Linked DNA regions of Homo sapiens. The protein of the gene in region 2 purifies or fractionates together with the protein of the main gene of each other region. This does not show direct contact. Each region holds a gene or a part of one and is shown on either strand. Other genes may lie near its edges. The genes, in order: PARP14, KDM4B, RTF2, ARHGAP18 and SMU1.

Region 1 (5,710 bases), on a different chromosome or scaffold from region 2:
GCCTGGCACGTATGCAGAACAGACCTAGTTTTGAGGAAGTTAAGTCTGGAGGGGTATGGAGGAAGCATGGAGCGGGGAGCCCAGGTCTAGTTAGGACGCTGTAATAAAAGCTTAGTCAAAAGACAAGAGCTGAACAAAAAGAGGAGGCCAGAATGAAGAATAGGGATTGAGGAGCTATTTTGGAAGTAAAGTCAGGAGTACCTAGGGACCAGCTGGGTTTGTCCTTCACCTTTCCCTCTCTGTCTTTTGCCATACACATACCTTCACTATATCATGGTTCACGTTGCATTGCAGTTGTTTGTTTGCATGCCTGTCTCTCACACTGGGCTCAGTGCTCCTTGTGAACTGGATCCTTTTCTTAGTTATCTTTCTATCTCCAGAGCCTAAACATGGTGCCTTGCAGATGCAGGCACTCAGTAAATATTCAATCAAATAATTCCTAAGCTAATGAAGATCGGAGTGACGAAGAGGGTAGAGTCAAGGACTCTAGATGGAAAGTGATGTTTTTCACGTGATTGGGGATATAAGAGGAAGGGCAGGTTTGGGGAGATGACAAGGAATGAGAGTTTGGAGTCTGCGTTGAGCTTGAGGTGATCACAGGTATTGCTAACCACCTAATCTCTCCTCTTATGCAGGTGTCTTTAAGGAACAGAGAGGAGGCTCCTTTAACTGCCAGAGGCTGTCTTGATCACAGTCTTAATTCAACTCATATACACCACTAAAAGAGAAAGCTTCTACATCTATCAGTCTCAGAACCAGCTCAGGTGGTGATAAAGATAGGTAAAGAGGACATGCAAGGATAACCCACTAACCCTGATTTATTTGTGCTGACCAGCAATGCAACCAGGTCAGTGGAAGAAACAACAGGATTTGTTGTTGAGTCCAGAATTGAGTCCAGAAATGCTCAAATGTGTACATATTTATACAAAACGAAACCTACCTTCTTTCTTTGTTTCTTCTTTTGACTCTACCAGGGACTCCTTTGGGAAGGTCTGTGGCACCCCTAAGCTGCTTGCTTTCTTGGCCCAAATCAACTGAAGGTGGAAACCCAAGACTAGAGCTCAGAGAAAAAAACAGATGGAGACAGAGACTGAGGAGTCATTGGTGGGTGTCCATAAAAGATAAGTCAGTAGAGAGATGATAGAGATAGATAGACAGATCGATAGATAGATAGATAGATAGATAGATAGATAGATAGATAGATAGATAGATAGATAGATGACTGGTAGAGAGAGATAGGAGAAATGTTGGCTAATCTGCTAGGAATAGATGATACTCTAAGGGGAATGAAAACAAAGGGATCAAAAATTATACTTTTAGAAATAGAAAAGTTGTAAAATAGACATAGAATTCCATCTCGGAACATTATAAGAAATGGTACAGAATTACAGATATGGGTCAGAGGGTTAGAAGAAGGCCCAGAAATTGACAAGGATGGTTAAGTTTATTGAGGATAACCTTTTGGAAAGCCTAGAATGCCAGCATAAGAGATTCAAACTTAGATTCCCGAGCAACAGAATGACAGATCCGATGCTGACTATTCTCGCACTGGAACAAGGCAGCTCCGTTGACTTCAAGCCTAAGAATGCATGCCTCCCCTGACCAGCTCTCTGAAGGAGACCAAGCAGGGATTCCTAAAGAGCTCAAAGAACACCTGTGCAACAAAACTGCACATTCTGCCCATGTACCCCAGTATAATTAAAAAAAAAAAACCACCTAATTAATGATAAATCCAGAGCGCCATCCTTATATATGAAAAATCACGCTATCATTACCTAGTTTTAGGAAAAGAAGAAAATCAAAGAAGCAAGTAGGCTGAAAAGAGGAAAGTGGAGAGTTGAGTTTCTGACCCACTAGGTTCTGGTGACTGAGAAGCTTCTACACAGAAATGCCCTGAGGCCAAGTGACACAGCTGACTGTTGAGCTGAAGCCTGGTAATATTCCTCTGGGAATCAGCTAGAGTGAGGTGGAAGTTGTTGTACTAATATTCTCCATGGAGAGGGGAAAGAGGAGGAAGCTAAGGACTGCATAATGGAGAATATGTAGGGAATGGAAAAAGGGAAAGTAACTGAGGAAAGAGAATGAGGGATGGCCTTTCCACTCTCTCCCTTCTCTTCTCCTCCTTATTTTCCCTTCCCTTCTTTCTGCCTCTCTAACATTCTAACACTCTCTTCAGTCTCCTGCATTTTGTCCCTCTTTTACTCAAACAATCCACAGGCTTTGTCATTCCCTTGGGAGTTGTCTTATGGGGAGGAAGCTGTCCACTCCTAGCTTAATGGTTGCTGCCCTGGGTCAGACTCAGCACTGACCGCATTCACACTCAGCTCCAAATGAAAGGGAAAGTAGATGGCTTGGGATTTAGCCTTGACAGCCAGAGGCTACGAACCTGTCCCAATGGCTGGGAGGCAAATGGATGAGTAATTTTTTTTTTCACACTCCTGCAAAACAGAGGAAACTGAACTCTTGACATCATTTCCACCAATTACATGAATGATATTCTTGCACCTCAAAAATCCACCTCCGGTGATTATATAATCATTTTTGCGCTGCTGAGCTGGGAAACACAGACAAAAAGATGCAAAATTAGTAGAAGTTGAACCCGTCATTTGTTTAGAAAGCAAAATGTATAACTTGGCAAGTAAGCATTTTGTGAAAAAAAAAAAACTCCTGAAATACTATCTTTGATGGAATGCTATGACTTAACTTTACTTTTAACTGTGAGATTACTTTTCACTTCTAAGTGTCTGTGATTGGAATTCTTTAGTAAAATGTATCATTTTAAAATTAGAGTGTTGTCTCCCCAACCCTAAGACTTTTCTCAGCCTCTCCACAGCCTCCCATACAATTACAACTTAGGACCAAAAAATAGAATATGCCTTACCTTGCTGAGAACATTCCCTTTCTACATTTTGTCCAGCACATTCTAAAATTGCTTTGGAGACCCCTACATGAGAAAATCAAGATGATAACAAACATGAGTAAAAAACCACTATGGTATATTTGGATCAGAAGGATTATCTGAATGCATTCTCCATCATCTGAGGAATCCTCTAATTGGGTATTGCTGATGACAAAGAAGAAAACTTCATAAAATAAACATTATTAATTATGGAAAACCCTGTCAGCATAATTTAAAAGTTATTAATTAACAAGCCAAAGTTCTAAAAACCAGTTTGGCTATAGAAACCCTCCTTCATAGCATCTACCATTAACTATTGCACTCATCAAAATTGTACAAGTACCTGCTTTGAGATTGAATGAGTTTGATGTTGAATTTACAATCACATCTGCCTCTTCTTTCGTGATATCTCCAGAAGCCACCTGGAAGATGATGGAGCCAATCTTCATTTCATACACACCTGAATCAGGGCTAGAAACAGTCCCATAAAAACCTGAAAAGAAAAGAAGTAAAGTCAATAACCGAGTCAGCCACAGCAAGAATGACTTGGGTATCCTGCTCACATGGGACCCTCTTGGATGTCTTCCCTCTCCCTCTCTTTCTGTGACCTCTGGTCTTTAACCTGGCCCTGCTCCTCAGCCTCAGTGATGATCTGTTTAAGAAAAAAGAATTAGAACATAGAATCCATATCAAACATGAACTCTGGTGCTGACCAAGGTGAAGTTAGCGTACTATAGCCTATCTCTCCCGTTGATTACAACTAAAAACAGGACAAATACAAAAAGCCACCACCCAAGAGCTCTGAAAAGTTACAATAACAGCAGACAGATTGAAGAAAGGTGCCAAAACTTGCAGAAGCAATCTGCTAAGTGGGGCAGTTTTCCATTTTGTTCTGTTTTAAAATTTTTCCTCTTTTCTCTCCCAGCTTTGACCCAAGGGTGGCCCTAGTCTCACAACATAATATTTAAAATGTCAAGTCTGTATTCCAAAATTGCTTGTTATATAAAGAACCAGGAAAATTTGATCAACCCTTAAGGATAAAGAAAATCAAAAGCTGTCAATCCAGCCAGACACAATGGCTCATGTCTGCAATCCCAGCACTTTGGGAGGCCGAGGTGGGTGGATCACTTGAGTCCAGGAGTTCGAGATCAGCCTGAACAACATGGTGAAACCCCATCTCTACAAATAATACAAATATTAGCTGGGATGGTGGTGCACAACTGTAGTCCCAGCTACTTGGGAGGCTGAGGTAGGAGGATCACCTGAGCCCCCAGAGGTTGAGGCTGCAGTGAGTTGAGATTGTGCCACTGCACTCCAGCTTGAGTGACAGAGTGAGACTCTGTCTCAAAAAAAAAAAGATGTCAATCCTGGCCAGGCATGGTGGCTCATGCCTGTAATTCCAGCACTTTGGGAGGCCGAGGCAGGTGGATCACTTGAGGTCAGGAGTTCAAGACAAGCCTGTCCAACATGGTAAAACCTTCTCTCTGCTAAAAGAAAAATACAAAACTTAGCTGGGCGTGGTGGCACAGGCCTGTAATCCCAGCTATTTGGGAGGCTGAGCAAGGAAATCACTTGAACCCGGGAGGCGGAGGTTGCAGTGAGCCAAGATTGCACCACTGCACTCCAGACTGGGCAACAGAGCAAGACTCCATAGAAAAAAGAAAAAAAAAAAAAAAGATGTGAATCCCAAAAAGATGTGAATTATAGAAGACTTTAAAGCATCTACTATAACTATGATCCATGAGGTCAAAGTAAACACATTTGAATGGATGGAAATGATGTGGAATGAATGGAAAAATAGGATGTCTCTGCAGAGAAATAGAAACTATTTTAAAAAGACCTCAAACAAACAAACAAAAAAAGATAAAAATGAAACAAAAAGCTGGTTCTTTGAAAAGATAAAGAAAATTCATAGACCATTAGTGAGATTAACCAAGAAAAGAAGAGAGAAGATCCAAATAAGCTCAATTAGAAATGAAACTGGAGACATTACAATCAATGCCTCAGAAATACAAAAGATCATTCAAGGCTGCTATGAACACCTTTACATGCACAAACTAGAAACTCTAGAGGAAATGGATAAATTCCTGGAAACATACAACCCTCCTAGGTTAAATCAGAAAGAAACAGAAACCTTGAACAGACCAATAACAAGCAGCAAGACTGAACTAGTAATTAAAAAAAATTGCCAACAACAAAAAAGTCCCAGACCAGGTGGATTCACAGCTGAATTCTACCAGACATTCAAAGAATTGGTACCAATCCTACTGAAACTATTCCAAAAGATAGAGAAAGAAGAAATCCTCCCTAAATCAGTCTAAAAGCTAGTATTAAACTAATAATAAATCCAAGAAAGGATACAACAAAAAAAAACTACAGACCAATATCCCTGATGAACACAGATGCAAAAATCTTTGACAAAATATGAGCTAACAAAATCCAACAGCACTTCAAAAAGATAATACATTATGAACAAGCGTACTTTATCCCAGGGATGCAGGGATGGTTTAACATATAAAAGTCAATAAATATGATACATCACATAAACTGAATTAAAAACAAAAATCATATAATCATCTCAATAGATGCAGAAAAAGCATCTGATAAAATCCAGCACCACTTTATTATAAAAACCCTCAACAAAATAGGCATAGAGGGGACATATCTTGAAGTAGTAAAAGCCATATGTGACAAATCCACAGCCAACATCATATTGAATGGGGGAAAGTTGACAGCATACCCCTGGGAACTGGAACAAGACAAGGATGCCCACTTTTACCACTTCTATTCAACATAGTACTGGAAGTCCTT
Region 2 (5,710 bases):
AGGCAGCACTCCTGTGGAGACCAGACAGCCCTGGATGAGCAGGGCTCGGAGCAGGCTCCCCACACACTGCTTGGGGCCTGATCTGCCAACCGTCCCCAGCCCACGGCCCTTATATTTCAACCTAGCAGCCACCAAAGTGACGGGTGGGAATCCCTTGGGTTCCACCCCCTCAGGGCAGAGGTGAAGGAACCCAGGCCCACGGAGGGGAGACTACGCCCCAAAGTCACCCCACTGGAGTGGGGCCGGGGCCCAGGCCTCTCAGAGCACCACCCCCGCTGCGGGGAGCGAGTTACCGCAGTCCAGGCGTGGGCCGCGCACCGGGAACACGTCCAGCCTTCATTGACCAGCTCGGGACGGATGCCATAGCAACCTGGAAGACAGCGGGGGCTGGCTGAGATCTGGGGGGCAGGTGAGACTTGGGGAGCCGAGTGAAACTCAGGGGGAGGGGCCGGGTAACTTGGGGGCCAGTGTCCGTATGTGGAGTGACGAGGCCTCCGCACGCAGCTGCAGCATTCAGGGTGCGTGCTGTTCCCACCCTCTGAGCTTCAATCCAGGCCACTGCATGTGGAGCGAGAGAAAGGTCTGGAAGCTACTTGTGTGGAAAGAGGACGCAGGAGGGGAAGCAGGGACCCTGAGCTCCAGCTGGGTCTGCCGCGCTCAGCCTGGTGGTGTCTTGAGGGCCCCTCCTTGTTGGGTGTCTGCACCCCCAACAGCAGCTCCTCCTGCTATGTCCAGAAAGGCCAAAGCCGCAAGGGAGACTCACTGTGGGATGTGGCCCTGGGTCTGGAAATGGGGAAAGGGCACAAAAGGCCGAATCATGCCCCCAGAGCGAGGGCAGGGGTGCCGCCTGCCCCCCAGGGCTCTGCCTCTGCTGGGGATCACTGCCCCCAGTGTGGAAGGGGCTCTCTGCCAGTGCTGATGGCCCACTGAAGAGGCTGGGGGCGGGGACCTCACTGCCTCCAGAGCAGCAGGGTGGTGGGCACGGCTGGGGGTGGGGGCGTCTGCTGGGGTAGCCTGGCTGGGGCGGCCCGGCTGTGGCAGGCCTGGGACCCTCGGCAACCCTTCCCCCAGGGAGCCCATCTGCCCCGGGGGCACATCTCAAACCCAGGCCCAGCAAAGCAGAGTGAAGAGCCTCCCAGCCAGGAGACAACGCGAGCCCCCAGGCAGGCCACCGCCAGGAGGAAACCGACACAGATCTATGGCTGCCAGGGGCACAGAAAATTAAACGTCTCCAGAGAGCCCTCCTCCTTCCCTGAAAGTCCAATTCCTGCCACCGCCCCCCCGTGCGTGGGAAAGAGACAGACATCCATTTTCTTGTCTGTGACCATGGTCGAGCCTCAGGACTGGGGAGGGGTCCCTGAGAGCAGAGATAAATCAGACGCCCTGACCACGCTGCAATCTCACTGTGACCATCAGTTTCAACCACAGCCACAAATCACAGGCGTAGCGGCTGCCTGAGTTCCTCCTGTCGCCTCCCAGGCCTTGGAGAAGACTCGGCAGAACTGTCCAGAGGGCCAGTGAGGAGGAACCCTGCCTGGGCCAAGGTCAAGGGCAGGGATGTTTGCCCCCAAAGGCTGCTTGGCAGAGACAGCCATTCTCAGGGAACACAGCCTGCGGAGAGACGGGGTGCCTGGCCCATTTCTTGCTCTGGCCCTAGGGTGAGCTTCTGGGTGTCAGGGACAGGGTGGGATGAGCCCAGTGCCCCTTGGAGCAGAGGCTTCCTCCGCAGAGGCTGGCACCAGAGGCCAGCACCTGGGCCTGCACTGGCATCTTCTGGATGCTGGGGGCGGTGGAGGCCCTGTCCTGCCCCAGGGTGGCATGCGGTCATCCAGCCCTTCCATGGCCACAGCCTTTCCCCCTGCTCTAGATGGTGGGACCACAACGGGAAGGATGAGAAAGTCAGAAATTGCAGGAAGTCACCGGGGGAGGCCCCTGCCCTGGCCCTGAAAGTGCAGCCTGGGGAGAGGGGCCGGTGTGGCCCTCCGCAGGGGAGGATGGAGCCCCCACCGGCACCCCCACCAACACCCTGAAGGAGGGCGCAGCTCCTCTGGGCCCCACAGTGGCACTCACTGGCATGGACCTGCAGGCAGCACTTGCCGCAGGCGATCAGGGGGCTGGTCCCGTCGTCGCCGATGTAGGAGTTGGCAGGCAGCGGCTCCGTGTTCTCACCGCCAGAGGTGAAGCACATCTCAGGGATGAGCGGTCGGGTCTTCTGACGGCTTTTGGAGGGTAATGTGGCCGGGCAGCCCTCTCCGAGGGAGGCTATGGGTGCCTCCTTCTCAGTCTGTAGGGCCTGTAGGGGAGAGGCGACCTTCAGGGGACAGAGCCATGTGTGGGGCAGGCGGGCGGGCGGCGCGGACCTCTCTCAGGGCACCTGCCCCAGGCTTCGACACCCCCTGGCTCTGGAGGGGGAGGTCGGGGAGATGGCCAGAGCCACCTCGGCCCCTCTTCTCACTCCTCCAGAAAGTCAGGATCCCCAAACACTGTCTGACCCTGTCCCCAACCCGCCGAAGACCTTCCCATGAGGGTTGCATCCAGACACAGAGCTCAGGCTGGCCTGTGTGGCCCCTGGTGCTGGGTGGCCCCTGGCGCTGGGGTATGCTGGGGGTGGTGTGTGATGAACGAGTCTCCACACTCTGCCTGGCAAGGGGAATTAGGAAGACGCATGTCTGAAGTGGCATTCCAGGCCCTGTGGCTCCCAGCAGCCTCTCTGGCCTCACAAAGGACAGCAAGTGCCTGGAGACGGTGTCGGCTGTCAGGTCTTGTTTGTCTCAGGAACCAGAGCACTAAATCCAGCTCCCAGCAGCAGAGCCCCAAGACAGGCTCACCACCCTCGGCACAGCACTCTCCCTGGCTCTGTCCACCCAGACCCGGCCGGCGCACAGGCCTGGGGGGTGACGTCCCCAACCCAGGGCAGCTCTGCTGATGCCTGGACATGCTTGGCATGGGGCTAGGAGCTGGGAGTGCAAAGCATGTGGCCAGGTCCTGTCCTGGGGAGGCTGCATGCCCAGGGGAAGAGAGAAGGGGGGATCTAAGAGATCCGAGGAAAACGGCTGGGCTGGGTGCTGATGCCTGGGATGGCCGTGGGCAGAGGCCAGCTCCCCATCTGGGTGCAGAGGACAGGCGAGGCCAGCATGGAAAGAGCACCAGAAACAGGACCTTAGCCAGGTGCCCAGCTCAGCTAGACAGGCCAGGGTTTGCGGGAGCCCCGCCCGGCCACCCAGGTGGTGTACCTGGGCCTTCACTGCACTCCCACACCACCCGGCCCATCTCAGCGCCCACCAGACACGGGCGCTCCCTGAGGGCAGTGACCCCGAGCCTCCGCAGCCTCCCTCTGCCCCATCCACCATGGCTCATGTTGCACATGGGCACGTTAGTAAGCTTCATTCCAATAAAACCCAGAGACCAGGCTCTGCCTACGGCTGTCAGGAACAAGCCCTCACAACTCGGGGTGCTGGCCAACACCCTGCCCTGCGTGAGAGAGGGAGGCGTGTGGGGTGCCCGGTCCCTCGCCCTCTCCCACCGCCCCTGCCTGGGGTTCTCTGGGACCCGTGAGGCCCGCCTGCCCACCTGGCAGTAGGGGTAGAAGAGCGTGCAGATGGCGCAGTAGGGCTCCGTGCGCGCAGCCGCTGCGTTGAACTTCCTCTCGGCCTGGAAGCTGGCCGCCCTGTTCTTCCACTGCAGAGACAGCAGCGGCCTCAAGGCGTCCGGGTCACTCACATCTTCCTCCCCGGAGAAAGGGGATGCCTCTAGAAGAACAGAGGGGAGAGGGAGAGAGACACTTGAGCCCCCTAAAAACTCGTCCAAGGAATCACCCCAACTGCCCAGGGGATGGCCCCGGGTCTACAGCCCTGGCTGCCCACAGGGTCCCTGGCCCATAGCTCCCCCTCCACCTGCCTCCTGGCTGCCCCATTCTCCACAATGCCCATCAAGCTGACACTGCAGCGTCCCATCCCATCAACAGGAGGGGGACACGTCTGTCTCGGCTGACTGCCACCTGAGGCCAGAGCCCCCAAACATGGTTCCTCTGAGCCCCTCCCCCAACACCTGGTTCTCCCTGGACATCCAGAGCCGTCCACTCACCCAGGGCCTTCTGGGCCAAGGACTGGCCAAACTCAGTGCCCAGCCCTGCCCCGGCTGCCCTACACCCGTCCTGGGGTCTGAGTCTGAGTGGGGGCGTCGGCAGTGACCAGCCGAGACTCAGAGACACTGTCCTTCCTGTCTTAGGTGGGCACAGACTCACTGAACTCAAGGGAGGTGCCAGAGGAGTGCGACAGGGAGTCAGGAGGGGCCGTGACCAGGGCTAGGAAGCCAAGGCAGCCCGCCCCAGGAAGAGCTGCGTGACGGGGACACTCTCCCGGAAGGCAGGTCTGCTGCTGAGAAGCCGCGGCGGTCTCTCTCCCACCTGTTGCCTGTTCCCATTGAACTCTAATGGCCTCCATTGCCAGCTGCCGCACCCCAATCTCCCCACGTCCCCTCCCTGCATCTCCTGTGGACACAGGGGTGCTGTCCCCAGGAAGTGGGGTGCCCACTCCTGTGGCCCAATCCTCAGCCCAACCTAAAGGGGAGCCTGGGGTCCTGGGATCAGCCCAGCTGTGGCACTGCCCCTGGTTCACCTAGAGGAGGGCAGGGCAGGGCAGGGCAGGCTCCCCGAGGTGGAGGCCCAGGTCTCCCATGGTGGACTCAGGAAGCCCTTAGGCCAAGACTCCTCTGAAAACCCAAACCAGACAGTACCGCCAGCGGAGCCCAGGGAAGGCCCTAAGCGGCCCCGAGGCCCTGGGGATGAGAACAGAGCCACTGGCTGCGTCTGTCACTCACAACCCCAGAATGCCTGGGGTTCTGGGGCCGTGATGGTCTCACAGGCAAATGCTCCGGTCTCACCAAAGGGTCACAGTGGGGTGTGGGGAGTGGGGGAGTCCACGGAGGCCCCAGAGATGCCTTCTGGAAGGATACCTGGGTAGAAGGCAAGACCCCTTCCCAAGCCAGCCCGCGGGGGCCCCTGGTCATTCCTCTGTCCCCGTGCCGATTCCTCCACTCCTGGGAGCTCCCGCCCTGTGATCCCACGCGCTTCTAGAACCCTCCTCTCCCCACCCCTCCAATTGCATGCAGGATGAAAGACGCCATCCAGACCATTTTCAGATTCTACATGCATCCCCAATGAAAGGCCGAAGCAGAAGTTGAAAAACTGGCTTAGCAGGACTTCTGCACACAAGACAGCAGCTCTCGGCTGAGGGTTAAATCGAAGATTCCATCTCCTCCCCTCCCACTCAAAGCTTCGCGGGAGCCTTTTGTTCCAACCTCTCCAAGTCCTGGAGAGGCCTGTGCTCAGCCCTGGGAGGAATCTTCCATGGGGAGGTACAAGCTCCCCAGCCCTGAACCGCCCATCATGGGCAGCCCAGCCAGCAGAGCAGAGCCGAGCATCTCTAACAGCAGCTGCCTCCCCGCACGACCACCTGCCCCAGTGACAGCCTGTCGCTACGGCAGAGCCACAGAAAGGCCTGGGTTCAGGGGAGGAGACCCAGGAAGTGGGGGAAGGAAGCCGCAGGGGAGCCAGGCCCCCCCTCCAGCAGCAGCAGAGCGCGGAGCAGGGCTGATGAGAGCCGACCTGGGGACCCCCCACTCACCCTCGTCACTTGAGGCCTCCTGCTTCACCACCGACAGTGGGGACCGGGTGGGCGGCCGGCCCAGGGGATGGCGCCGGCTCTTCTTG
Region 3 (5,710 bases), on a different chromosome or scaffold from region 2:
CAAAAAAGCCAGAATGCCTAGGCAGGATGGATTTTTATTATAACTATTCACACAACAAATGCTTAATAAGTGGTTACCATATATACATTGTTGTAGGCCCCAGGGATATAGCAGTGAACAAGGCAGAGTCTAGCCCTGGTGGAGCTTACATTTCGGATCAATATTGTGAAATCTGCCCTGGTTCCTAACGCAGAGCACCTAAATTCCTTGTAATTTCCTGGGTGACGGGATCATCTTTTGTTCTAATAAGGCAATTATTGGTGGGCTCCTGGATGGGGCCTGGTCACCAGAAACACCAAGCCAAGATTAGAAGCCTGGAACTTTCAGCCCCACCTCACCCCCATCCTTCAGGGAGGAGAAGAGGAATTGGACATGGAGTTAATAATCCATCATGCCTACGTGGTGGGGTCTCCATAAAGATCCCTGAAGTTGAGGGTTTGGAGATTTTCTGGGTTGCCGACAACATCCACATGCCAGGAGAGTTACCCCAACTCCATGAGGACAGCCCTGCACTTGGGACCCTTCCAGATTACTTCTTTATCTGGCTATTTATTTGTATCCTTTAAAATGTATTTGTAATAAATCAGCAATGGTAACTAAACTCTTTCCCCATATCTGTGAGACACTAGCAAATCATCAAACTGGGCGGGGGGATCGTGGTAGCCTTTGATTTATAGACAGTCAGAAGTGCAGGTGACAACTTGAACTTGTGATTGGCATCTAAAGTCGGGGTAGGGACAGTATTATGGGACTGAGCCCTTAACCTTTGGGATCTGAGGCCATATCCAAATAGGTGGTATCAGAATTGAGTTTAATTGTAAGACACCTGGCTGCTATCAGAGAATTGGTTGGTGTGGGGAAAATCCCATACATTTTGTCCGAAGTGTTCTGGAAGTATTGAGTGTTGTGAGTGAAAGTATAGAAAAAACACTTGTCTGGCCAGGCGCGGTGGCTCACGCCTGTAATCCCAGCACTTTGGGAGGCTGAAGCAGGCGGATCATGAGGTCAGGAGATCGAGACCATCCTGGCTAACACAGTGAAACCCTGTCTCCACTAAAAATACAAAAAAGTTGCCGGGCATGGTGGCAGGTGCCTGTAGTCCCAGCTACTCGGGAGGCTGAGGCAGGAGAATGGCGTGAACCCAGGAGGCAGAGCTTGCAGTGAGCCAAGATAGCGCCACTGCACTCCAGCCTGGGCGACAGAGCAAGACTCCGTCTCAAAAAAAAACAAAACAAAACAAAACCACTTGTACTTGTCTTTCCAGTACAGATATGTAAAAACTTAAAAGAAGAAAGACCCTAGGAAAGAAGAGAGACCCTGGTAAACACATTTTTTACTGCTTTTTCGGGGGAAACAATTTTCAAAGCCCTGGATAAGGAGTGATTTGTCACTTTTCTCCCTGTCCCCAACTCTCTGAGGTGCTTTTTGAATATAACCTAATCTCTTGGTGCCTCACTTTCCTCATCTTCAAAAGTAAAAATACTAACTCATAGAGTTTTTCTGAGGATTAAAAAGTTATGGAAACTGCTTAGCACAGTGCCTGGCACACAGTAAGCACTTAAGCAGTTTTTACTTTAAAAATTAAATTCAGAGGGCCAGGTGTGTTGGCTTACGCCTGTAAACTCAGCCCTTTGGGAGATCGAGGCAGGAGAATCACTTGAGCTCAGCAGTTGGAGAACAGCCTGGGCAACACAGGGAGACCTCTTAACAAAAATAAAATAAAATTAGCTGGGAATTGGCGCTTGCTTGTAGTCCTAGCTACTTGGGAGGCTAAGGGGGAGGATTGCTTGAGCCCAGGAGAATTGAGGCTGCAGTGAGCTGTGATTGTGCCACTGCAGCCCAGTCTGGGCAACAGAGCAAGACCCTGTCTCAAAAAATAAATTAATAAAATAAATTCAGCAGGATTGTTTTTGTCTTCTTTTTTTCTTTTCTCTTCCTATTTTCTTCCAAATGTGCTGTCCTGTTAAATTATTCAGATTTGGCATTTGAAGAATGGGAAAGAGTGGTGCAGTCTACACAGTGAAGGAAAAAACAAGAACGGGAAGGAGTGGGACATGGAATATGATGTATGTGAAAATGTCATTCGAGGGCCAGGGAGGGTCTTATGTCTGGATTTTCATACTGGGGATAAAGTTTGATGTATCCCTTAGTGAATAAGCCCCAAAACACTTATTTCTGTTAAATTGAACATTTTATAAAGAATTATGTAGTCTTTGTTCTGAACTTTAAAAAAAAAATGCTTGTCTTCTCAGTTCTTAAGTCTTTAAATTCTGCCGCAACTTAGCAGGCTTTCCCATTGTTAGAAATTAATCTAACACACTTTTTTTTTTCTCTTTTGTATGGCCTCCCTAAGTTATTATTAAGATTCAGATGTTAATATTTGTATGTGGCTTGCATAAACAGTTTAATAATTTTATATAATCTTCTTTTTCTTTGTACATGTCATATTTAGATGGGCGTTTATTTGATGTAGTATTAATTACTTGTGACTTTTAAAATCCTGACTTCAGCCAGGCACAGTTGCTCATGCTTTCAATACCAGCAGTTTGGGTGGCTGAGATGGGCGGATCATTTGAGTCCAGGAGTTTGGGGGCAGCATGGCAAAACCACGTCTCTACAAAAAATACAAAAATTAGCCAGCCCTGGTGGTGTGCACCCATAGTCCCAGCTACTCCAGAGGCTGAGGTGGAAGGTTTGCTTCAGTCCAGGAGGTGGAGGTTGCAGTGAGTGAAGATTGCGCCACTACACTCCAGCCTGGGCAACAGAGTGAGACCCCGTCTCAAAAACAAACAAACAACAAACCAAAAACCCAACTTCCTATGTCATTATCTTTGATTTAAAAAACAAAAATCATTACAGTGCGGTATTACTGAATATACTTTTATATGTAGAATTGTGAACCATGTGTCTTTCAGAGTTGAAAATTAATTGAATTTTTTGTTTTTTATTAGGTCGACAAAGATGCTGAATTAGTGGCCCAATGGAACTATTGTACTCTAAGTCAGGAAATATTAAGACGACCAATAGTTGCCTGTGAACTTGGCAGGTATGGTTTTTACACTTAATCAAGATGAGTTTGTTAAGTGATTTTGAGAATTTTGATGTGTAAATGCAGTTTTCCATTCATCAAGCGTGGATTATCCCAAGCAAATTTGTGAGGCATAGGCTGTCGTTCCCTGTCTCTGAACATAGTTCTGTACTCTTCTAGTCAGTTTGGTTTATTTAATCCATGGTTTGAAAACTGAGGGGCTGGGCTGAGCGCAGTGGCTCACACCTGTAATCCCACCACTTTGGGAGGCTGAGGAGGAAGGGTCACTTAAGTCTAGGAGTTCAAGACCAGTCTGGGCAATGTGGTGAAACCCCACCTCTACAAAAAAATTAAATTAGCCAGGCACCTGGTGGCTGGCATGATCCTGTAGTCCCAGCTGTTCAGGAGGCTGAGGCAGGAGGATCCTGTGAGTCTGGGAGGTTGAAGCTGTAGTAAGCTATAATTCCACCACTGCACCCCAGCCTGTGCAAAAAAAATAGCAAACTCAGGGGCCAATAGAAGCTAAATTATAAGCATAAACACATGAAGGAGCCATGTGAGGAACAGGAGAGAATGGCAGGGAATGGAGAATACTGGAGGGTCCATGTGCTGTCCAAAGCGGGAGCTGCCACTCAGTTCCAGCCAGTTTTTACAGCTCAATGGTGTTGGCCTAGTGATTCCACACCTTCTGGTTTTAATTTTTTTAAAAAAAGAAGAAATACGTACTTATACGTTAAATTTCCCAATTAAAAAAAGCCTTGTTCAGGTTACATTCAGCCTTCTGACTGCCAGTTTGCCACCTTTGATTTAAACTAATTTCTGGCTGGACCCATTGGCTCATGCCTGTGATCCCAGCACTTTGGGAGGCTGAGGTGGGTGGATCACCTGAGGTCAGGAGTTTGAGACCAGCCTGGCCAATATGGTGAAACCCTGTCTCTACTAAAAATATGAAAATTAGCCAGGCATGGTGGCAGGCGCCTGTAATCCCAGCTGCTCGGGAGGCTGAGGCAGGAGAATTGCTTGAATCCGGGAGGCGGAGGTTGCAGTGAGCTGAGATTGCACCATTGCACTCCAGCCGGGGTGACAAGAGTGAAACTCTCTCTCAAATAAATAAATAAATAATTTCCTTCTTTGTATGCTCTGGAAATAGTTGAAACAGGGTTAAATTTACTTTTTAATAATTCAGGGTATTTCTCTTATCAAATGTAAACGACTTTTGGATTGTGTTCAGTTTATTCTTCCTTCTTTGGTTATTTGAAAGTCGCTTGTTGACATAATATTCTAATACTTACTATTGCAGACTTTATAACAAAGATGCCGTCATTGAATTTCTCTTGGACAAATCTGCAGAAAAGGCTCTTGGGAAGGCAGCATCTCACATTAAAAGCATTAAGGTAACACGAGTGATTCTGAAGTGCTGTGAGGGTCTGAACAGTGGCTGAGGTTTATTTTATAGAATTTATACGCCTTAAAGACTGAACTCAGAAATTTGGGATTCCATTCCCACATGGCCATCTAATACAGGTATGATCTTGAGAGGTCACTTAAATCTCAAGCCACGAGTTCCACCATGCATACTTCCTACATTATAAATCTGTTGTAATTTCACCTGTGTGTTGTGCTTTGAAAATTTTGATGTTCTCTATTAATGTTAGGAGGCATTATTTTTGTAATTAAGATTCACCTACTTGGATTTTGGATTTGGAAGATACTTTTGTGAATTAGATAATTTTATGGATCACTGTTAAATCACGTGGCTACCATCTGGTGATTAGAGGTTCTGATTGGCAGTTAAAGTTCTTTCATAAAAGTTGAAAAAACAAGTTTTTTTAATAAGGGAAATTTCTTGAGAGGACACAACTTTTTAAATATGGTCAGTGGGGAAAAAAACTTGGAAAGGTAATGAAGAATTTGAGAACCATCAGGCTAGTCAAACCCTTCATCTCACTGTAAATGACTCACTTGAGGCCCCATGGCTAGCGAAGTACTTAAACCAGAACCAGATCCCCTAACTCCCAGTCTAAGGCTCTAGGTTTTGCCTTCTTTTTCTTTCTTTCTTTCGTATTATTAGGCTTTTTGTTCAAATGCTTGGGGTTGATTATAGGATATGTTCATTTCAGGCAAATTCATAATTCTGAAATGTAGCTAATGATAGTGCTCTAGAAATTATTCTGATTTTAGTGGTCTTTTACCTTGTGGAAGAGAATTTATTCCTGAAAAACCTGTGGTAGTATGAATCATCTTACATCAAAAATGTGATAAACGATTCTTTAGTAGTTCATAATGCTATGATTGGGTTTCCATGTGCACATGTAAGATGTGCCTCTCTCAAGCCTTGTTGTGACATCAGCACATTACCCATCTGATGAGAAAAAAAAACAGTTATTGAAATTAATTCATACAGTTCTATACTTAAAATACTTGTAATATTCAGTTTTATGTGGTTGAATATTTAATGGAAAAAAACTCCAAGAAATTAGAACAGTAAAGAAAAAAAGCATACAAATAAAACAATGCTAATACATAAGATTGTCATTACCGTCAATTGATAGTCCACAAATACTCGGAGCAGAGAACTCAGTGAGACGTGCTCATTCTCGACCAGGAAGCTGATCGTATGAATGGTGATTTGCCTTTCAAGACACTCACCTGCTCTCTAGAGTATTGAAGTCAAAATGGTCT
Region 4 (5,710 bases), on a different chromosome or scaffold from region 2:
TGACCTCAGGTGATCCACCCACCTTGGCATCCCAAAGTGCTGGGATTACAGGCATGAGCCACACGCCCGGCCTAAGGCCTGGCTAATTTTTGTATTTTTAGTAGAGATAGGGTTTCACCATATTGGCCAGGCTGGTCTCGAACTCCTGACCTTGCAATCCACCAACCTCGGCCTCCCAAAGTGCTGGGATTCACAGGCATGAGCCACCACACCCAGCCGAAGCACTTCTTACTTTACTAAATTAATTACATTATACAGCTATAATCTGATTCATCTAAAGTCACAAGAATGTATGTCATTTTCCACCTTCCTAAATACTCCCAAATCAATGACAAATGTAGACAAGTACATAATCCCTAATAGAAGACAGGCACATGTTTAGGAGACAAAGGCATATTTATTGGAGTATACAAAGCTCCCAGGTGCCTGGGGAAGGACATTGTACTAAAGTAAGATAAAACTAGAAGCAGAAAAAAATCAGAACTTTTACATCTCAGATCACAAAAGTCTGGAGAGGCAACAAAGAAACAACAGAAACCCCCAACTTAGTTGAAGATTTTATTTGGGTTGGAAAAGTTTATTTCCAAACCTGTAGTTGGGAACTTGGAATCCATTTTCCTACAGCAATGGTGCTACAAATAAATGCTGTTTTAAGTTTTCTGGCTAGTAAAAAGAAATTAATCCATAATATGGTAGAATTATAGAATGAATATCTCCATGGAATTTAAATATCATTTTTGCTATTTCTCCCCTAGGAAAAATGGCTTCTGCATTTCTAATTGCATACAGCTCTATCCTCCCCTCTACTTCATCCTTTCGCTAGTTACGTCCACACCCACCAAAAAAGTCCCCAGTCTCTTAGAGGTGGAAGCAAAGCAGCCTGCTTTTATGAGCCTTTTGTAAGCAGGAACTACTGTGTTGATAAGAACTTGAAATGCAAGTGTAGGGAGGAACTGGAGAACTGACTAGGAGGACATAGCTTCCTAGCCTACAGCCTGGAGCATGTAAGCAAGTTTATTATGTATTCTATAGATGAGGAGAAAGACTAACAGTACAGTTTTCAAATTTTTGTACTAAATGGGAAGGAGATGGGGCACAGAGCTTAAGAAGAACTGGGTGAAGGGAACACATCCCCCAGATCTCTGCCACAGATATACATTCAGCTGAACTCTGCCCCATGAAACATCACTTCTTGGTTATGAGAACAGCCTAATCAAGAACAGCTGTTTTATATAAATAAATTTTAAGGGCACAAATGTATAACAATTATTCTTTTCTCAAATACTTAGCTATAATGATACATTGGTACTTTTACCTGCAAGTATTGAGATAACCTAAAGTCAATTTGCTCTTTGAGGAACAGGTGCAAATAACTTTTCCTTGCTCTACACTAGATGATTTTCCATCTTATTAAGAGTAACAAACACTCTGCAACTTTATAGCTACCCAAACTGAAGCATTAAAGGTATTCAAAACAGTCACCTGGGCCTAACAAGAGTTCAATACCTTTAAACACTTTTTTAGGGTACTTTTTGGATATTAAATGTAGTATTGAAATAATGTGAGCTATTTATATAACTTATCCCACTATTAGTTTTAAAATAAAGGCATTATACTGCATATGCATTAGAAGCAAACATTCATTTCCCAAATGACTTACAAATTAATCACAACAATGCTTTCCTATACTATTTCCAAATTAATTCACCAACAGGTAACAGTCTGACTGCCCTTTATCATCATCGAAAACACGTACTTTATGTCAAGCACTCATGTAAGTATGTTACATATGTTGACTCAGTCAATCCTTAAAATAAGTCTTGAGTTAGGTATTATTATTCCCAGTGTGCAGAAGGAAACAAAAAAATTGAGGCCCTGAAACATTAAATAGCCCAGAGTCACAAGCTGCTACATGAAAGAAGCAGGACTTCAACCCAGGCAATCTAGCTCCAAAATCTGTGTATGCAATCACTACGCCTCCTCCCACTTACACTCATTCATTCATTCAATCTTTTAGTAACTACCTAAAGTGAACTAAGCACTTTGCCAAGGCTTAGGTATAAAGGAACACCCCTCCCTTAAAAAAAAAAAAAAGACAGGCAAAGTTCTCACCCTCAATGAACTTACATCTGAGTATATAATAAAAAAGTAAAATTCAAATTAAACTCAAAAGTTTACTATGACAACTCTGGTTAAGTGAAATGAAGTGAAATGTCTGGGGAAATTTTAAGATACTGTACAGAAAAGGATTTAGTAATAATGTTCATCTGCATAATTTTTTAACATTCTCAAACGTTACACATTTGATCTTCATGATTAACTTTGCGAAGCAGGAAGGGCATCATTACACGATATGATTTCATAAATGAGGAAACAGATAAATGTGTCATGTCCTAAATATCTTAGCAAAGATGCCACATCCTTTGTCCAGGAATCTCACTACCCACAGACCCTGCTTTTCTAAAAAGATCCAGAACAAGCCAGATCATAAGCTGCCTGGGGTTGTACTATGGCCTGTTCAAAAAGATTAACTGGAAAAATCTGATGTCCTTTCAAAAATGTGAAATTAAGGCCGGGCGCGGTGGCTCACGCCTATAATCCCCACACTTTGGGAGGCTGAGGTGGGCAGATCGTGAGGTCAGGAGTTCGAGAACAGCCTGACTAACATGGTGAAACCCCATCTCTACTAAAAATACAAAAATTAGCCAGGCGTAGTGGCAGGTGCCTGTAATCTCAGCTACTCAGGAGGCTGAGGCAGGAGAATCACTTGAACCTGGGAGGTGGAGGTTGCAGTGGGCTGAGATCATGCCACTGCACTCCAGCCTGGGTGACAGAGCGAGATTCCATCTCAAATAAAAAAAAACAAAAAACAAAAAACTGAAATTAGGAAATAAAGAGATGGGTCAGTTAGCTATGAAATGTAAGATGACTCAGGAGGTAACCAGGCTGGGCATCCATCAGGAGCCAAAAGCTCAAGCTGAAATGATGAGATTAGAAAGCCAGTGGGTAGAAAAGAATTGAGAGTCTCCAAGAGAACAGAAATGCCATGAGTGTCCCCATATGACCAGCTGCTGAGGGAAGAAGAGATGCCTCCTTTCCCTATGACCCAGATCCCTGTAACAAACCTCATTTCCCATAAGGAAACCTCAGTGTTCTTTGCAGCCAAAAGGCAACTACCAAATGCATATGAAAAGGAGATGAGGTTTCATACTCTCTTTCAACACAGAAATTCAGATACTTAGTGGACTTAAGTATGGAAAAAAACTACAGGTAGTAACTGGTCACACGGGTCTCCATGGTTTCTGTTTATTTCTTGCAAAAAAAAGGATAAACTTGGCCAGCTCACAGCAACAAACATGGAAGTCAAAAGAATGTGCCTTCAGAAAGATCTAGACATCCCTTCCGTTCCTCCTGCCCTAATCCATGCCCAATACCCTGACTCATCCCCACTCTCCTCAAATAATGAGAGTTCTTATTCTCTATCCCTTTTTTATCGAAAGAAAATAGAAAAGCCCATTAAATATCAACTGAATAAAACATTTAGAACAAACCATCTCTCTCAAAATATTCGTATGAAATGAAAGGGTGGGCACAGGACAGAGGGCACCTACAGCAGGGTTCAGGAGAGGATTGTTGTCATACCTGGTCTAGCAACCCCAAACCTACAGAGTGATCCATGCTGTTAGTGACTCCCACTGAGACCCACAGCCTACAGGCCTCATCACAGTGACACCACTAGGATGATGACAGAGCTTTCTCAGGGCTCTTGGACAGAACAGAATCAAGAAGAGGCAGGAGGGCCAGGCACAGTGGCTCACGCCTGTAATCCCAGCACTTTGGGAGGCCTAGGCGGGTGGATCACCTGAGGTCAGGAGTTCGAGACCAGCCTGGCCAACATGGCAAAACCCCGTCTCTACTGAAAACACAAAAATTAGACGGGTGTGGTGGCGCACGCCTGTAATCCCAGCTACTGGGGAAGCTAAGGCAGGAGAATTGCTTCAACCCAGGAGACAGAAATTGCAGTGAGCCGAGATTGCGCCATGCACTGCAGCCTGGTGACAGAGCGAGACTCCATCTCCAAAACAAAAAAAAAAAGAAGAAGAAAAAGAGGCAGGAGAAAGAAGACAGCCACAGGGCATGGACCTCACAGATTCATGAGCAAGGAGTAGAGGGAACTATCCCTGTGGCCAGGGACAGCCTTGGCCTCTAGGGTGCTGGGTTCTTTTTCTAATTTGTGAGACAGATGTTTACAGCCAGTGGGGAATTAAAACAGAAGAGTGAAACAGATAATTTGTTCTGGCAATGAGTCCAATTATCAAAAACGAGTTAAGCCTAACACCCATGCAGTCCAGTAGCAATCATGTGCATCATTAAATGCATCAATTGTTACGAGTCTTTATTGCTTCAACACTTGTAGAAGTATGATAAATAATAACAGAACTCAAAATATTAGAAAATTCATAAAATATGAAAGCAAGCCCCACTTAGAAGAGACAAGGCAGCACAGTGCAATCGTACAATGCAGAAGTAATAAATGTGCCGTGGACAACAAAGCAAATGTTCAACAAGTTTCTCTAGGAAGGTGTGGGTGGGGATGGTTCTGATAATCTCTAAATCCTTATATTCGAAAGGCATAAACTTAATTAAAAGTTCTATGAAGATAATATAACTTTAATAGGCCCACAAAAATCACAGGTCTCGTCAATGAGAGGAATCAAAAGGCAAATATCACATGTCTGTGAATGAACCTAAGACTTCCCCAGTTGGACACCGGGTGCAACCTCTAATAATTCAAGAAGAAACTATGGATAGGGTTTTTAAACCACAGTGAAGAAAATGCCTTTACAAAGGACTCTTATGTCATGAAATTGAAGAAGAGATTGATCTGGAAAACAATTATCCCCATGGACAGGTTTAAATCCATTTAGTCACTAAATTCTATGAAATTAGAATGAGGAAATACGCTTTAGAAGCTAAGGTTAGAAAAAATAAAATTTAAATATTACACAATTGCATTATAAAAACTCATTACCATCCCTTTTTTTCAACAACAAAAAAATATATATATATGATCAGGTAATAATACACTAATTCAGAATGAAGAAACTTTTTAAATGGTATACTACATAGGTTTTTAAAATCCTGTGAAGATTCATGTAAAAACACTGAACTAATCAAGACAGCCAGCCATGTTCTTACTTTAATGTTTATCTCAAAAAGATATTTCTCAAAACTGAGCTTCAGGCCAGGCGTGAGGGCTCACACCTATAATCCTAGCACTCTGGGAGGGCGAGGCAGGCGGATCACTTGAGGTCAGGAGTTCAAGACCAGCCTGGCCAACATGGTGAAACCCCATCTTCACTAAATATACAAAAATTAGCCAGGCATGGTAGCAGGCACCTGTAATCCCAGCTACTGGGGAGCCTGAGGCATGAGAATCGCTTGAACCTGGGAGGTGGAGGCTGCAGTGTGCCAAGATGACCCCACTGCACTCCAACCTGGGTGACACAGCGAGACTCAGTATCTGAAAACAAAAAACAAACAAAAAAAAACTGAGCTTCATGTCTCGCTCAACTTACCCCAGCCCCCTTATGCCCCTCTGCAAGTCCTCCCTATCTAAATTAATGATCACTTTAACATTACAAGTTTCTTAGGGCAAAAACCTTGAATCTTCAGGTATTCTCATTTGTCCATCTCCTACAGGCCCTAA
Region 5 (5,710 bases), on a different chromosome or scaffold from region 2:
CTTCCCAATTCTGCCCGCTTGCATTTCAAAAGTATGAGTTGGGAGAAAACTGAGGTCAGCCAATCCACACTATTATTATTTTTTCACTGAGTTCCTGGCCAAAGGACACACTGCTATTTTTCTGAAAAGAGTCCAAGTAAACCACATTAAACCCAGAGTTGTTCTTCCAGTTTTTGAAAAATTTGCAGAACCAAGAATTCTTTTATACTCTTTAGTAATTTCTTAAATGGCTCCCAGCACAGAAGTGCTTCACCACCTCTAAGTTAAATCCTGTCCTGGTAATCTAAAATCCTTTCCTTTATCCTCATAGATTTTGTAGGTTTACTCTAACATTCTATTATCCAGTGCCTATTAAGTTCTTCTTCCTCCTGAGAAAATACTTGCAAACTACCCATCTGACAAGGGATTAATAACCAGAATATGGCTGGGCAGGGTGGCTCACGCCTGTAATCCCAACATTTTCGGGGGCTGAGGCTGGCAGATCACCCGAGGTCAGGAGTTTGTGACCAGCCTGGCCAACATGGTGAAACTCTGTCGCTACTAAAAATAGAAAAACTAGCCAGGCCATAGTGGTGGGTGCCTGTAATCTCAGCTACTCGGGAGGCTGAGGCAGGAGAATTCCTGGAACCTGGGAGGTGGAGGTTGCAGTGAGCTAAGATCGTGCCATTGCACTCCAGCCGGGGAGACAACAGCAAGACTCTGTCTCAGAAAAATAAATAAACAAATAAATAAATAACCAGAATACAGGGCCAAGTGTGGTGGCTCATGCCTGTCATCCTAGCACTTTGGGAGGCCGAGGCGGGTGGACTGCTTGAGGCCAGGACTTCGAGACCAACCTGGCCAACATGGCGAAACCCCATCTCTACTGAAAACTCAAAAATTAGCTGAGTGTGGTGGCACACACCAGTAATCCCAGCTACTTGGTGGCTGAGGCACGAGAATTACTTGGACCCAGGAAGCGGAGGCTGCAGTGAGCCGAGATCACGCCACTGCACTCCAGCCTGGGTAACAGAGCTCTGTCTCAAAAACAACAACAACAACAACAACAAAACCCAGAATATATAAGGAGCTCAAACAACTCTACGGGAAAAAAATCTGATAATCCAATGTTAAAAATGGGTGAAAGATCTGAATAGACATTTCTCAAAAAAAGACACACACAAGGCAAACAGGTTTATTTAAAGGTGCTCAACACAACTGATCATTAGAGAAATGCAAATCAAACTACAATGAGATATCATCTCACTCCAGTTAAAATGGCTTTTATACAAAAAGACAGGAAATAACAAATGCTGGTGAGTAAGTGGAGAAAAAGGAACCCTCGTACACTATTAGTGGGAATGTAAATTAGTACAACCACTATGGAGAATAGTTTGGAGATTCCTCAAAAAATTAAACATGGAGGTACCATATGATCCAGCAATCCCACTGCTAGGTACACACCCAAAAGGAAATCAGTATATCAAAGAGATATCTGCACTCCCATGTTTATTACAGCAGTGTTCACAATAGGCAAGATTTGGAAGCAACGATAAGTGACCATTAACAGATAAATAAAGAAAATGAGGTACATGTACACAATGGTGTACTAGCTGGACATATAAAAGAATGAAATCCTGTCATTTGCAACAACATGCATGTAACTAGAGCTCATTATGGTAAGCGAAATAAGCCAGGCACAGAAAGACAGACTTTGCATGTTCTCATTTATTTGCAGGAACTAAAAATTAAAACATGGAGATAGAGAGTAGAAGGATGGTTGTCAGAGGCTGGGAAGGGTGGAGGTGGCGGGGGTAAGAAGGAAAGTGGGGATGGTTAATAGATACAAAAAATATAAAGAATAAATAAGAAATAGTATTTGATAGCACAACAGGGTGACTATAGCCAATAATAATTATACATTTTAAAATAACTGAAAGAATTGAATTGTTTGTAACACAAAGGATACATGCTTGAGGTGATGGATACTCCATTTACCCTCATTATGCACTGCATGCCTATATCAAAATATCTCATGTACCCCATAAATATATACACCTACTATGTACCCATAAAAAATTTTTTTTAATCCTTTTTCCTCCTATTTTGACAAACCTCTAGTAAAAGGCTGGGGGGGTGGGCAGGAAGAATGAAACCATACAGATAATAAGGTTTAGGAAGAATGAAACTATACAGATAATAACGTTTTGGAAGAATAAAAGACTATCATCATGCTCTACTGGTAAGCATAATCCGCGAAGAAACAAAAGCTTCTAGGGACTAAAAAGGCTAGAAGGAAACTACAATTGTTAGGGGCAAGACACACAAATGATCAGTGAACATACCAGCAGTCAGGCAGCACTTCGGGGAGGGCTAATGTGGAAATGACATCAGAATAAAATGTTCTGCTTTTTTTACTAACCAACACGCAATCCTCTAAACTGAGGTGTATAGAAGACTCAAATAATCAGAAAACTGAACAAAATTATTCTCTTTAACATACGCAAATTTCAGCCAACATATATAAACAGAGAAGCATCATTCTCAAAAATTAAATCAAAATCACAAAGAGTATACAATAAAATGGTAAAAAAAAAAAAAAAAGATCATGTTATTTCATTTCCAAAGTTAACAAAAAGTTCCTTTTCATTACCACAGTCATACCTCACGAGGATCAAAGTAAGACCTGGCCAAAAGGTTCTCCAGATGAATATATCGCTCTGGCTGTGTTTGTTTTAACATGATCATGGGATCAGTCTGTCTCAAAAGTGACCTGGCAGCACCCAATTCACGGAGCTCTATCAATTCCAGAACAACCTGGACAATTAAAAAAAAACAAAAAAAACCCCAGATGTTTCAACACACCGTCTTATTAATATTTTTCGGTAAAATATCTAACACAGATATGGCCTGTCAAAGGATTTCCAATACCAGGAAGTGCCCCTTTCCATTTTCACTAGCAATTTCAGGTGGACTTGGTGGGCTTGGTGGCTCATGCCTATAATCCTAACACTGTGGGAGGCCAAGATGGGCGGATCACTTGAGGTCAGCAGTTCGAAACCAGCCTGGCCAACGTGGTGAAACAGACTCTCTACTAAAAATACAAAAAAAATTAGCTGGGTGTGGTGGTATATGCCTGTAATTCCAGCTACTTGGGAGGCTGAGGCAGGAGAATTGCTTGAACCCGAGAGGCGGAGAGTGCAGTGAGCCAAGCTCATGCTACTGTACTCTGGCCTGGGCGACAGAGCGAGATCTGTCTCAATAAATAAATAAATAATAATTTCAATCCTTCAAACTCTATCCTTCATTTTTATCTACCAATCTCCCCTCCTCTCAGGCTTCTTGCTCAGAATGTAGATGCCAAAGAAAGCTAAAGATGGGAATATACCCATGGGCTCCAGAGAAACCTTTCTCCAGTTACCAAAATTTTCTTTGGGAATTATTGAACTCATACGGATTGTAAAGAAACAAACTGCCCAGACACGGCAGCTCACACCTGTAATCCCAGCATTTGGGAGGCTGAGGCAGGTGGATCACTTGAGGTCAGGAGTTGGAGACCAGCCTGGCCAATGTGGTGAAACCCCGTCTCTACTAAACACAAAACTTAGCTGGGCGTGGTGATGCACGCCTGTAATCCCAGCTACTCGGGAGGCTGAGGCAGGAGAATCGCTTGAACCCCGGAGATGGAGGTTGCAGTGAGCAGAGATCGCACCACTGCACTCCAGCCTGGGTAACACAGTGAGACTCTGTCTCAAAAAAAAAACAAAAAAAAAAACCCGTAAACAAAAACCAAAAACCAATTTCACTACTTTTACTTCAAATTACAATCTTATTTCCAGAAAGTCTACTCTGCTGTTTTATAATCACAAATTTGTCTGATCTTTGTCCTAGGTTCTTGGCTTGGAGCTTCTTGGAATTTGACCAGTGATAGGGGTATCTTTGTTACTCCTGGGCCCCTTGAATCACACCTGGGTTTGTGCAAAGGAAATGGCTCAGGATAGGTAGGAGCTAGTTATCAGAAAGACTAACTATGTGATTAGAAAGTTGAGGCTCTCTCGTGCCTGTAATCCCAGCCCTTTGGAAAGTCAAGGCTGGCGAACTGCTTGAGCCCAGGAGTTTGAGACCACCCTGGGTATTATGGTGAGATCCTGTCTCTACAGAAAAATGCAAAAATTAGGCAGGCGTGGTGGTGCGTGCCTGTGTTCCTAGCTACTCAGGAGGCTGAGGCAGGAGGAAGGATTGATCCTGGAAATGGAGGATGCAGCAAGCTGTGATCTTGCCACTGCACTCCAGAGTGGGTAACAGAACAAGATCCAGTCTCAAAAAAAGGAAAGAATTTTAATTTGGGAAATCCTGGATTTTCCAAGAAGGGAGAAAAAATACAATGTCAAGCCTTGCCATTGTTGTATGGGCTGATGCAGCCCTACCGTGCTTGAAGGAATGCTCACTGACGCTTTTTAGTTGGGGAGCTGGCCCACAACGAACCAACCCATGGGGATCAGCATCACCACCACTCTTACCTGTTCATAGAGGTCAATGAGGGTTTTGTCTGGCAATTTCAGAGACTGTATAGCCTGCAACACAGTATCCCAATGGCCACTGTTAATGTCAGCCACAAAACTCTCAATGCTGTCCACAGTATTCAGAGACACAGTAGTCTCCTCCTGCAAGGTGGCTAACGCCCGATGTAAACTGTTCTCCTTCAAGTACTGCATAATAAGGCGGATCACACTGAAAGAAAACAAATCGTTCAGCTCAGGGATTCTCACTCACCAGAGGTCAAAAATAAAGCCTATCAAGCTCCTACTCAATCATCTTCCTTTCACTACTATTTCTTTATCATGTGAGTAAAATTTTCCAAAATCACAGAATCTAAATTATAAGGGGACCCCCCCTAACCATAGAGACAGAACTGGGGTTCAAGGAAAGGAAATCATTTGCCTAATGTCTCAGTCAGCTAGAAAGGGAGTTGGTGTCAAGGTGACTATCTTATTTCCTAATCCAGAGCCTAGTTTCCTATTCATTCTTGTAATTATATTGTAGCACACTTCACTGAAATACTTTAAATGACTAGACTAGTTATTTATACAAAATAATCTAAATGAGGTTGGGCATGCTGGCTCATGACTGTAATCTCAGTAATTTGGGAGGCTGAGGCAGGAGGATTGGCTGGAAACCAGGAGGTTTGAGACCAGATCAGGCAGCTGTGAGACCCCATCTCTACAAATTTTTTTTTAAATTAGCCAAACATGGTGGCATGTGCCTGTAGTCCCAGCTACTTGGGATGTTGATGTGGGAGGATCCCTTGAGCCCATGAGTTCAAGACCAGCATGGGCAACATAAGAAGACCCCTTCTCTACACACACACACACACAAAAAAAAAAATTAGCTAGGCATGATAGTGTGTGCTTGTGGTCCCAGCTACCTGGGAAGCTGGGGTGGGAGGATTGCTTGTATCCATAAGGTTGAGGCTGCAGTGAGCCGTGATCATGCCACTGCACTCTAGCCTGGGAAAGAGAGCAAGACCTTGTCTCAAAAAAATAAATAAAATAAAACCTATGAGGTAAGTTTACTTTTATCCCCAATTTACAGATGAGGATTTGATCAGATAATAGAGATAATAAGTGGAAAAATCAGGACTCAAACTGGCAGTGTGGCTCTAGAGCATGTATTCCTGAGGAGAAAGCAAACATCCTCTTTTTTTTTTTTTTTTTTGAGAAATGGTCACTTG

The links.
Region 1: the proteins of KDM4B (region 2) and PARP14 purify together in Homo sapiens (affinity purification with mass spectrometry; one large-scale study listed by BioGRID and IntAct). This does not show direct contact.
Region 3: the proteins of KDM4B (region 2) and RTF2 purify together in Homo sapiens (affinity purification with mass spectrometry; one large-scale study listed by BioGRID and IntAct). This does not show direct contact.
Region 4: the proteins of KDM4B (region 2) and ARHGAP18 purify together in Homo sapiens (affinity purification with mass spectrometry; one large-scale study listed by BioGRID and IntAct). This does not show direct contact.
Region 5: the proteins of KDM4B (region 2) and SMU1 fractionate together in Homo sapiens (co-fractionation; one large-scale study listed by BioGRID). This does not show direct contact.

Annotation. Positions count from the first base shown.
Region 1 is NC_000003.12:122,711,106-122,716,815, reverse strand, and holds part of PARP14 (protein mono-ADP-ribosyltransferase PARP14), read right to left. Parts: intron 3,552-5,710; coding exon of another isoform or gene 3,541-3,551; exon of another isoform or gene 3,393-3,540; coding exon 3,243-3,392; intron 2,945-3,242; coding exon 2,882-2,944; intron 2,555-2,881; coding exon 2,387-2,554; intron 1-2,386. UniProt on the Homo sapiens protein: ADP-ribosyltransferase that mediates mono-ADP-ribosylation of glutamate residues on target proteins. In contrast to PARP1 and PARP2, it is not able to mediate poly-ADP-ribosylation.
Region 2 is NC_000019.10:5,131,922-5,137,631, reverse strand, and holds part of KDM4B (lysine-specific demethylase 4B), read right to left. Parts: coding exon 5,625-5,710; intron 3,750-5,624; coding exon 3,571-3,749; intron 2,294-3,570; coding exon 2,071-2,293; intron 371-2,070; coding exon 294-370; intron 12-293; coding exon 1-11. UniProt on the Homo sapiens protein: Histone demethylase that specifically demethylates 'Lys-9' of histone H3, thereby playing a role in histone code. Does not demethylate histone H3 'Lys-4', H3 'Lys-27', H3 'Lys-36' nor H4 'Lys-20'.
Region 3 is NC_000020.11:56,470,350-56,476,059, forward strand, and holds part of RTF2 (replication termination factor 2), read left to right. Parts: intron 1-276; exon of another isoform or gene 277-592; intron 593-1,264; exon of another isoform or gene 1,265-1,320; intron 1,321-1,976; coding exon of another isoform or gene 1,977-2,066; intron 2,067-2,951; coding exon 2,952-3,046; intron 3,047-4,328; coding exon 4,329-4,422; intron 4,423-5,293; exon of another isoform or gene 5,294-5,396; intron 5,397-5,710. UniProt on the Homo sapiens protein: Replication termination factor which is a component of the elongating replisome. Required for ATR pathway signaling upon DNA damage and has a positive activity during DNA replication.
Region 4 is NC_000006.12:129,698,920-129,704,629, forward strand, and holds part of ARHGAP18 (rho GTPase-activating protein 18), read right to left. Parts: intron 1-5,710. UniProt on the Homo sapiens protein: Rho GTPase activating protein that suppresses F-actin polymerization by inhibiting Rho. Rho GTPase activating proteins act by converting Rho-type GTPases to an inactive GDP-bound state.
Region 5 is NC_000009.12:33,069,097-33,074,806, forward strand, and holds part of SMU1 (WD40 repeat-containing protein SMU1), read right to left. Parts: intron 4,711-5,710; coding exon 4,500-4,710; intron 2,797-4,499; coding exon 2,644-2,796; intron 1-2,643. UniProt on the Homo sapiens protein: Involved in pre-mRNA splicing as a component of the spliceosome. Regulates alternative splicing of the HSPG2 pre-mRNA. Required for normal accumulation of IK.